Regions from separate parts of the Homo sapiens genome. Here region 2 is linked to region 1. The links come from fine-mapping of genetic effects on gene expression. A gene starts in region 1. The other region holds a variant in brackets. All regions are shown on one strand. Distances are from middle to middle.

Region 1 (5,367 bases):
GATGCAGGGGTCGTGCGAGCCGGAGTAGCTGGGAGAGGGGAAGCAAAGAGAAAATAGACCCTGCAGGGAGGGCACAGGCTGGAGCAGATTCCCTCTTGAGATTCTCCAGGATTTCTCCTCCAATGAGCTCATGCCAAAGCACGCCCCTGGTACCTTCTCCCAGTCACATTTCTAACCAGGTCTCTGTCAACACCATCCAAATATTGTAGGCAGAGATGGGCTTGGGCAGAGATGGGCTCAGGCAGAGACAGTGCCCGAGTGGATGCACTGAAAGGCTCGGAACGGCACCTGGCCATGGGAAGCATGCAATAAACTCCAACTATCATCATTACTGCTATGACTCCAGAGGAGCCTCTTTCTTGCTCTGCCATCTCTAGTGGGCACTCTGCCTTTTTTTGGCTTGCCTTTTTCCATCTGCCCCTATACCTGCTGCCCCATGCCTTAACCCCTCCAAATTTTCCCAGGACTTGATGAGAGGAACAGCAGAAAATCTTGTCAGAAGAGGGTAGAACATCTGCAGAGCAGGACTGTGAGGGGTCCATTTGTGGGTTTTGGTTGGATCTGGAGGTGATCCTGTCACTGTGGGCCAGGCTGACTTCCTCCCTCAGTCCTGTCGGGGGTGTGCATGTGAGGGAGGGGGTTTTTGACGCATGTGTGCCAGGTACGGGAACAGCCCCGGCTGGGCCAACCCACCCTGGCATCCTTATCACTGGTTCCTAGCCAGCCGGTTGCTGTGTTCTGGGAAGAGGAAAGGTCACCTTGAGGTTTCCCCTTTGCTCTAGCTGCTGGTTGCCTCCCTGCCTCATCCAGGGTGGGGGCCACAGGGTAAGAGCAGCCTCTGAGTGACCCAGGTGTGAATGTGAGCTGGGACAGACAAGCTGGCTGGGGTCTCAGTGGGAGACCACATCCATGGCAGGAGGAGGAAGGATGTAGAGGCCTCTGCACCCCTAAGGCTTTTTTGTTTGTTTGTTTTGTTTTTTTGTTTTTGTTTTTTGAGGTGGAGTCTCCCTCTGTCACCCAGGCTGGAGTGCAGTGGCACGATCTTGGCTCACCACAGGGTGCACTTCCTGGGTTCAAGCAATTCTCCTGCCTCAGCCTCCCTAGGAGCTGGGATTACTGGTGCGCGCCATGACACCCAGCTAATATTTTTTATATTTTTAGTAGAGACGGGGTTTCGCCATGTTGGCCAGCCTGGTCTCGAACTCCTGACCTCAAGTGATCTGCCCTCCTTGGCCTCCCAAAGTGCTGAGATTACAGGCTGAGCCACTGCGCCCAGCCCCCCAAGGCATTTTTAAACACTCCTTTTCCTTCTACTGTCCCTGTGTTTCCAGGGCAAATCTCTCCCTACTCCTCACCCCAGCCTAATTTCCTCCTCAGTGTAGGGGAGGATGAGATGTCCCTAAGGTGTCTTAGAGACTGCATCCCGTGTAGGAGAGAGATTCACTGATACCACCCCCCAAATCCCCACTCCTTATCTCCAGGCGAACTCTCCCTCCTCTGCACTTTCCCTGCTGGGAATGGGTGCTGGGCTGAGGAAATAGGCTCCAGAAAGAGGGACCAAGGCTAGACTTTGAGAATCACTTCCTAACAGCAAGACTGACAAGGTCATGGGCTCCCTGGAATGGGCACTTGAGGTTAAATTCCTAGAAGTCTTTAAGGAGACTGGGGTTGCTTTCACTTGGAAGCAGGGCCTGGGCAAGGAGACCAGTGAAGGGCCCAGCTGCTCTGGTCCCAGAAATCCAGGCGAAAGCCCAGAGAGGCATCCAGTGAAGATCAACTCCCCTTGAAGGGGTGGCTCTGCCCCTTCCATCTTCCAAGTAGTGACCCCACAGCCCCCAAAGCTTGGTCAGTGTTGAGCTGGTCCTCGATTCCCCCAGCAAGTTCACGGGGGTCAGTCTGGCTGTTTAGTACGGTTTAAGAGGCACTCTTGAATACTGGGTATATGCCAATCTCCGGAAGACTCTGGGCATTAAAAGATAAAGAGGAGTCCGTCTCTGCCCCAGGGTTTATACAAATGAGACTCAGAGAGCAGGTGGCTAGCTCTGGGAAGTGCCTGGGAAGGCCTTCCTGGCAGTGGAGGTGCTCTTGGCCATGCTGGTCTCCATGCTGCCCAAGCAGGGTCTTGCCAGGTTCTGGATGCCAGGGCCAGGATGAGGGAGGTGGGGGAGGACTGTGGGGTTCTGAGAAAGGGTCATCTGCATGAGTGAAGCCACTCAGGGGGAAAGCCCTCTCTCAGTCTGCCCACTTGGGGGGCTGCGTCACTCCAGGGTCTTCTGGTCCTCAGACCCGTGGGGCCAAGTGTAAGGGGGCAGTTGATGCTGGAATAATAGAAGCTTTGTTAGGTCTCAGCTGGGGACCCTCTGGGCTGGTTTTGAGGAATGGGGGCACTGCCTGAGAGTGGCTTGGAACCCCTTGGAGCTGCAGGATGAGGGGTTTGGAGGCTGAGAGCCTGGAGAGCTGGCTGCCCATCCACTGTCCTGGCCCAAGCCCTTCTGTGTTGAAGCATTCACCATTGAGTCGGGCGTCCCAGGTCCAGCTACCGCCCACCCGCCTGCCTGATGGAGCTGGTCCCTTGCTCACCCTCTCCCACTCCTCAGTTTCCTCCCCCTCCACCTCTTCCAACTTCTCAGGACTAATGGGGACACATGGGATTCTGTGTAGTCCATGCTAAGTTCCCCGAGCTGGTGGAGAAGTACATGAGTGAAGGAGGATGTCTGGGCGGTAGAAGGAGGGGGAGACAGCCATGCAGAGTAGGCTGGTGAGTCAAGCATTAAGAGCTTTTCCCTCCAAGACTTGAAAAGAAAGGGAGAGGAGCAGCCCACAGCTTCAAAGGCTGTCGCGGAGGAAGGTCTAACATTTTCCTTTCCCTCGGAGGCCTTTGCCTCGCTCTGTTTCGGGGTCTGGCGACCACCACACCCTCACCCTACTTGCTCCCTCAGTCAAGCCCAGCCTTGCAGCCCAGGTCCTTACATAGACGTGAAGACCCAAAGGGCTCCTCAGAGGGGAAGGGCTGGGAGGCTGCTCTCAGACTCCAGGGGCCAGAGTGTCCTTCCTACTTGTGCTCAGCTTGGCAGTTGGTTCCTGTCATCCCTCCTCTCGGTACCCCTGGTGACTGCCCTCTTGCAGGGATGACCCCAGCCCAGTGGGGTGGGCTGGGCTGGGTGGGGCTTACCAGTGGGTGAGCAAAGCCGGCTGGGCAGGGCTGCAGGTGTGTCTGGGGAGCGGGCAGCCGAAAGGTGTTCCTGAGGTGTGTGAAAGGGCTCTGCTCAAATAATCCAGGGAGGCGTTTATAAATAACTTTTCCTCAGGGCCACGGGGTGAGCCCCGGCTTCTGATTGGCTCAGAGGGGAAGTGGTTTTGAACACTACACCATAGCTAAGCCTGAGGAGATAGGAAAAGGAGATAAGGGGGAAAAGGTCCCAAATGAACAGCCCTTTTTTTGTTTTACCTGGGGAGCAGGGCTGTGTGATGGGAGCTTGGCACTTCCTAAATCCACCCCGAAGACAATAGGTCACATTCAGCGGGGCTCCTGCCCCACCGGCTCCCCCAAGGCGGCCCTGGAGGAGGGGGACGAGGCAGAGGAGGGGGACAAGGCAGGACAAGCTCCTCTGAGCTTGCTGTCCTGCTGCTTATGGGGCTGGGGGTCAGGCCAAAGAGCCTCTTGGACAATGGGAGCTATTGAGGCCACCTGAGGGGTGTGCTCTTGGGGATGCTTGCTTTGAAGATTGGAGATCTAGGGGGTGGGAAGACAGTAGTCCTCTGAACACCCCTGAGGAAGGGGAAGAACCATGTCTGGGAGGCCCTGGGAGCCTTTAGGCGGTTTTGGTTTGTGGTGGAGACCTGGTTCCCAGTTCTGTCCCCAATGTTAAGTTGCTTGTGAGCTCTGTGCCTTGGTCTATCCATCAGTGCAATGGGGGAAATTATTCCTGGCCCCTCAGGTAGTGTGCAAAGAGAACACAGGGGTTTAGAATCTGATAAAAGAGCTCAAGAAACTGGACTTAGAACAATTATATGAGAGGCGACCTGAAGGCTAGCAAATCTCCAGTCACAGCCCTCTGCCGCTTCTAGGAATTAATGTCTCCCTGGGTCATGGCACTGCTCCGGCTGCTGCCAGCAGAGCTGCCCATCCCAGGCCCATTGAGTGCTACGGAAGGACCTCAGAAAGCAATTGTGGACAGGGGCTGGGAGGGTGGGTAGGGGAGTTTCTTAATTTACTTCCTGGGAGGGAGAGTCACTACCCGACACCAGGTGCCCATTCTTTGAGACATCAAGTGCTGCACTGTCCTCGTCCTCAACTGTCCTCCCATCTCTCCAAAAGAAACCAGAGGCTCTGAAGTGGGCTGGAATCAGTGCAGGGGGCTTCAGTAAGGCACCTCTGGAAGTTGGGGCGAAAGTTCCCCATGGTGAAATGAGCTAGCTTCAGTACTTAATAGGGACTCAATAAATATTTGTTAAATGAATGAAAGAGTGAATTGTCTGCAAGCCCAACCCAAGGGATAGTTTGTAGATGCATTGCTTGTGGGGACTAGGGAAACACCCGAGGTCACTCAGAGTTGTCAGGGTGTAGCCAGACAACTGGCTGAAGAGAGCCAGAATTCAAGTGACCCAAGTGTGCCCTGACACCTGGCTGAGGGAAGGATGTGTGCATGGACACTGCCTCGGGGAGCCCTTCCCCAGACCCCTATGTGGACTTAGCTGACATGTTGCACATTCGTTCCTCTGGCTTCCTCTGCTTCACTCTCATAACACTGACCACAATTAATGGTAATTATGTATGGAATTGTCAGTCTTTCTGCAAACACCGTGAACTCCCTGAGGAGGGCAAGGGGGCAGTGCCTCTTTTGTATCCCTACCCACCTAGCCCAGTGCCCGGCACTTAGGAGGAGCTCAATATAGATTTGAGGAATGAATGAACAATTGTATGATAGAGTCTTTAAACAAAGCAAAGCCAGAGGGCGAGAATTTGTCCATGCATCTTCAGTATTGTCCAGTGTCATGGGTAGCCTGACCTGTTCTAAACTTTGCCCAGGAAATTCCTAGAAAGCAGATGAGTCATTATGTTCTTCCGATAGCCAGGTGACAGTGGCTATCAAGATCAAACAACTAAGTCCCCTTGCTGAGACACCATGTCCACCAGGGAATCTTCTGGTTGTATGTCCTTTAGGGCAGAGAATGCACTGCCCAGCTGGTTGGAGCGACTAGGGCTGCTTTTGCAGGCATGCTTCTCTTTTAAATGACCCATGGACATTCTGGGCTACCCATTGGTCCAGTGTGAGTTTTATTAATGTGAGTTAGTATCCCCTGAGTCTGACCTAGTTTCCACAGTAACACTTGGTTTTCCCACAGGTGATTTGGTTTAATTCTTAT
Region 2 (5,367 bases), 25 kb before region 1:
TAGGAACCCCTGGCCAGAACAAAGCACCTGTGTGTGTGTGTGTGTGTGTGTGTGTGTGCGAGAGTGTGTGTGAACAGGGGAGAGGCAGGGTCAGCCTAGGAGGTGAACCAGTCCAGCGTGGCAGGAGCAGGTGCTGAAATCTACATGTGAATCACCTCCTGTGTGCTGTGTGACCTTCCACGTGTCCCTCGCCCCCTAATAGCTTCACTTTCCTCATTGGGTAAAATGAGGGTTGGCAGTAGACAAGCTCTGAAGTCCTTTCTCACGTTGATAAGCTATTTTGGTCCTATCCAGGCTTTTTGGAATGTGCTGGAGATTCCAAGAGGGCACCGAAATCAGTCTGCCAAATCTCTGTGGCTCCAGCTCTATTTTCTAATCTGTCCCACCTGCCATCAGCACTGTGAGAGACGGATTCAGAGCACCATGGAGCTCAATGTCAAAAAGAATGGGAAGAGGCACAAAGAGAGACACTACTTCTCATAGACCCAAAGCCAGATTTCTCCAAACCTAGTCATCTGGTTTCTTTTAATTCAGGGCATTGGTGGGGTGGTGTTAATCCAGGGGCCCTATGGGGATGGTGATCCCTCATATCCACATATCTTTTAGGTTTTGTTTTGTTTGTTTTTGAGACAGTCTAGCTCTGTCACCCAAGCTGGAGTGCAGTGGCACGATCTCGGCTCACTGCAACATCTGCCTCCCAGGTTCAAGTGATTCTCATGCCTCAGACTTCCGAGTAGCTGGGACTACAGGCATGCACCACTACGCCTGGCTAATTTTTGTGCTTTTAGTAGAGACGGGGTTTCGCCATGTTGGCCAGGCTGGTCTCAAACTCCTGACCTCAGGTGGTCCGCCCACCTCAGCCTCCCAAAGTGCTGGGATTACAGGTGTGAACCATTGCACCCAGCCACATATTTTTTAGTTCTTAAGGCTTGTCCACATGCAATAATAATTCATTTGTAGACCCAGAATCCATCTATTCTACCATAACGTAAGTTTCTAAAAGGCAGAGGCCTTTGTTTTGCTCACTGCTATGTGCCCATCCTGAACTGTGTCAGGCAAACAGTAGGTACGCCATAAATACCTGCTGAATTAATGAAAGAACAAGTGACTGCCCTGCCAATCTTGTGTGGTGGATGGGACAGGTATTACCTATGTTTCCCCTAATTTCACAGATGATAAAAACTAGGGCCCAGGGTGTATGTGGCTTGCTCAGGGTCACGTGGGTGATGTGTTGGAGAATAAGAATAGATACTGGTTCTCTAGGACTTGGTCCAGTGACTCACCCTCTCCCCACGATAACTTTCAGGGAGTGAGAAGAATGAAAACAAAGGCCAGGCATCGTGGCTTATGCCTGTAATCCAGGCACTTAGGAGACCGAGGCAGGCAGATTGCTTGAGATCGGAAGTTCGAGACCAGCCCAGCCAACATGGTGAAAAGCTGTCTCTACTAAAAATACAAAAATTAGCTGGGCGCAGGCCTGAAGTCCCAGCTACTCGGGAGGCTGAGGCAGGAGAACCTCTGGAACCCGGGAGGCAGAGGTTGCAGTGAGCTGAGATCATGCCACTGCATTCCAGTCTGGGTGATAGAGTGAGACTTTGTCTCAAATTAAAAAAAAAAAAAAAAGAAAAGGAAAAGAAAAAAAACAAAGATGACCACAAATCTTTGTGGCCTTGAATGTGACTGCTCTGGGCTGGAGGTGAGACAGCTGAGTGAACGCCTTGTATTTGACAGCGACCCCATCCTTCCCCTCTTCGCCCTGCTCCCACCCTCACAGCCCCTTCCCTCAGCTCACCTGCTCTAAGTCCCAGTAGCTGCGAATGTCCTCCTCTGAGTCGTACAAGGAGAGCTCAGCATCCCCTGGAGCCTGGAAGGGAGGAAGCCAGTGCAGAATGAGCTTCAGTGACTGAACAGCAAAGTTGGTGCATGGTGGCAGGAAAAGGGACAGGTGGCCGGCTCTGGTTGGACGCTGCTTCCTGACACATGACTTATCCTCTTGCCCCTTCCCTTACCTGCCTCACAAAAACAGCACGGCTGTGGTCTTCCCCCTTATACCAGACAGGTGTGTATCGCGGTCTTCCCTCCTTTGTGGGCCGTTAGAGGCAGGGAAGGTTTTACTCAGCTTAGAAAAACTATTGGCTAGCTGCCTGACCTTGGGGAATTCCTGTCCTCCTGGGAATATATTTTCTAATCTGTTCAAGTCTGATAACCAGCCTCACTTTGCCTGCTTTGTCCCTCACAATGCTGTTGAAAAGGTGTGTGTTTATGTGTGTGATTTGTATCTGTGAATGGTCTATAATATGTAAGTATATATTATATAAAATATAAATTATTTATAAGTCTATGACTAATCAAGTATACATACCAACTAGAGTAGCTGAACATGATTAGGGCACTAACAACTAATGCAGCTTCCTCCAGAATCTCCCTCTTTGCTCTGCGGACAAATTCACGAAGCAGGAAAGCCCGTTGTTTCCCCAGGGTTTCCCTCTAGGCATGGAGGGCAGGAGCCAGCGCCCTGTGTGTTCCTGGGCAGTCTTTCAGCACTTAGAACAGATGGTTTCACCTTCATCAGTCTCTTAAGGCAAAGAGCAAATCATTGCTCTAGGGCCAGAAAAGCCTTTCTTATGACCCACAGAGGGCAGGGGAGGTTTTTACCCAGGGCTGGGGCACAACAAGAGTCTTGGGAGGCCAAGGGCAGGAGCTGAGCTGGGAGGGGACCCTGAGGGCTAGAGATGACTGGGGATCTGGGCAGGGACCCCAAGGAGGTAGG[C/A]TTTTTCTGACTCCCCAGTCTTCTGGAGTTTTAGATGGTGTTATTTGTATCCCATTTGTAACTTACTGAGCTAGTAAATTAAATGTCAAAAAGCTGAGACAAAACTCAGACCCAATCTCTTTATCCCTCACCAGCCTGAAATCTCTAAGCTCCGGTAAGTTAAAATGGGTAGGCTTACTCCCCTCCCCTCCCTTCCCGAAAGCCCCCTTTAGAAAGAGATGAGGAGGAGGCAGGGAACGATGCCAGCAGAGTGGGCCTGCTCTACTATGCTTTGGGTGTTTGTGCAACCAGAAAACTTATATTGATAAAGAATTTTTACAATACACAAAGTGCTTTCAAGTGACACAAAAGATGTAATTATCATTTAACCCTAAAACAAAATAAAAGAAAAATGCAGAGAGGTAGGTAATGTTAGTTGATGGTGCTCATTCTATAGATAAGGAAACAGATTCAGAAAACTGAAATGGCAGACTTGATATTGGAACTTAAACCTTCTCCTGTGTTCTTTCTAATAATGCCTCTTGGTCCTGCTATTTCAGTGCCTTGGAGCCTAGGATTCCCCAGGTGCAAGAACCTTACCCCTTGGAAGTTGTGTCCTGGGGTCACGTCTCTAGCATTTGCCTGGGCAAAGAGGACTGCGTCATGTATGCTGGGAAAGACGTGCTTGCATTCTAGACTCCCATCCTCAAAGACGCCTCCATGGCTAATGTCATTGTACACCTGGGCTAGAAGGAGAAAAGATCACCTTCAGAAAGATAACAGCCATTGTGGATTGGAGCTGGGGGTGGGGAAGATAGTGAGACCAGAGCAGGGATGGGAGAGGCCTGAGGTCCCAGCTCTTGCTGTATCTGAGGGCCATGGCATTGGCAGTGCAATATCAGTTTTGGACGGCAGAGGGCAACATGAACTTGAGGATGCTGAAGTTTCAACCCAGAGCAGAAGGAAGCAGTTTGATTTAGGGAGTCAGTACTTTGTGGTGATTCGAGTGGAAAAGCCTAAGCCATCCTTGAAGAGGCCGCTGCCAGTTCTATCCCCCAAGGACCCATCCTTCCTCTTGTTTTCCCAGACCTTTCCAGCAACTTCCAATGTGTGGCATTGGAAGTTTGTGTGGATTACTCTTAATCCTAGAGATGGTTTCCTGAGGGGGTGTCCAGTGAGGTTGGGGAGAATCCACTGCTTCTAACTCCAGAACATATCATAGCAGGTCATTGCCACTGCAGATTCTCTCCCCGAACGTGGCCATGCGGAGCTTGGGAACTGCAGCCCTGCTGGAGGGGGTCTGACCCAGTGCAGGGAGCTGGGTGTGTGTGTATGTGCCCCTTCACATTCTCCTGTGTGTCTGTGTGCACTTGCTCCCACATCTCTGCACTTTGCGTACATGCTAGTCATGTAAATGTCTGCTGCCCTGTGGCCACGTCCTTGAGGCTGTGTATATGCACCCTTTGGAGGCTGTATGCCTACAAAACTGCATATTTATATGTTCCCTGGGGAATTAGGGTACCGTGTGCTCTATGCCTATATCGATTCACAGAGTTTCTGATTGGGAGAGGATCCCCAAATCCATCTAGTCAACCCTCTCGTTTTACATAGGTAGAAATAGATCCCTTGAGAGATAAAGTGACTCGGCCAAGGATACGTGGCAAATTAGTTATGGGGTAGATTAGAATCCTAGCTGTCCTTCTGTAACTCCATGACCTCCTCACCCCCACTCTGTCACTAAGGCCCCTAGGATGTTTATGCAATCTGACCAGTCTCTTTGGACTTGTACCTGAAGCTTTTATGAGCAGGCAGCAGCTTGTGGGGGATAGCTGGGTGCTCTCGTTTCCAACCTCCTCACTATTCAGACCCCACCAACCTGTTCCTACCCCACACTCCTTGCCAGTCTTTCAGTCCCTAAATGTCCTCTTTCTCTTACCATGGATGTTCACCAAGAAGACCTTCACGCCGATCTTCCCATAGGTGGAGCTCAGCTAGAAGTGTTGTTGGGGTAGGGAGGCAAAAGGAAAGGAATGTTCTGAGTGGGTCTCAAAAGTGATTCACAAAACGTACTTCAGAGGGGAAGCCAAACAAATAAGCAACCCTGAGAGCCCAGCAGCCAAAGACAAAAATAGCAGCAAAGCACACCACTTCTCCCTGGAGTGTTGGCTGACGGTTTCTCTGGGAAGTGGAGCGGAAATGGACTTTTGCCAACGTGGCGGGCACTTAAAGTCACCATGGCCCCTTCTTGTGGGGCTAGATATTTTCTTTTTTTTTCTTTTGAGATGGAGTTTCACTCTGTTGCCCAGGCTGGAGTGCAGTGGCGTGATCTTGGCTCGCTGCAACCTCCGCCTCCTGGGTTCAAGCAATTCTCTGCCTCAGCCTACCGAGTAGCTGGGACTACAGGGGCCCGTCACCACACCTGGCTAATTTTTGTATTTTTAGTAGAGGCGGGGTTTCACCATGTTGGCCAGGCTGGTCTTGAACTCCTGACCTTGTGATCCACCTGCCTTGGCCTCCCAAAGTGCTGGGATTACAGGAGTGAGCCACCACGCCCGGCTGATCTTTTCTTTCAGTAGCTTAGATTCTCAGACTTCTTTGTGGCTTCAGACAGAAGCTGC

Which allele goes with the higher level. Alleles are on the strand shown, and positions count from the first base shown. SD is a standard deviation of normalised expression in the study named.
In carriers of allele C in region 2, the expression in aorta of the gene that starts at base 3,264 in region 1 tends to be higher than with A alone (moderate effect, 0.44 SD a copy in GTEx).

Evidence for each region. PIP is the estimated chance that this variant, and not a neighbour inherited with it, causes the effect.
Region 2: its variant is fine-mapped to the expression of SLC26A9 in aorta (GTEx, PIP 0.94).

The regions. Positions count from the first base shown.
Region 1 is chr1:205,940,193-205,945,559 of GRCh38, forward strand. SLC26A9 (solute carrier family 26 member 9) reads right to left here and starts at 3,264. Exons shown (of 21, transcript NM_052934.4): 1 at 3,173-3,264. All of the region lies in intron 2 of SLC26A9-AS1 (SLC26A9 and RAB7B antisense RNA 1), which reads left to right.
Region 2 is chr1:205,915,491-205,920,857 of GRCh38, forward strand. It overlaps SLC26A9 (solute carrier family 26 member 9), which reads right to left. Exons shown (of 21, transcript NM_052934.4): 18 at 4,686-4,740; 19 at 3,350-3,495; 20 at 1,793-1,864. Among named protein-coding and RNA genes, the nearest start is that of SLC26A9-AS1, 17 kb to the right of the region's middle. RefSeq lists enhancers at 4,543-5,074, 5,075-5,367. The variant C/A (reference allele first, on the strand shown) is at 2,771.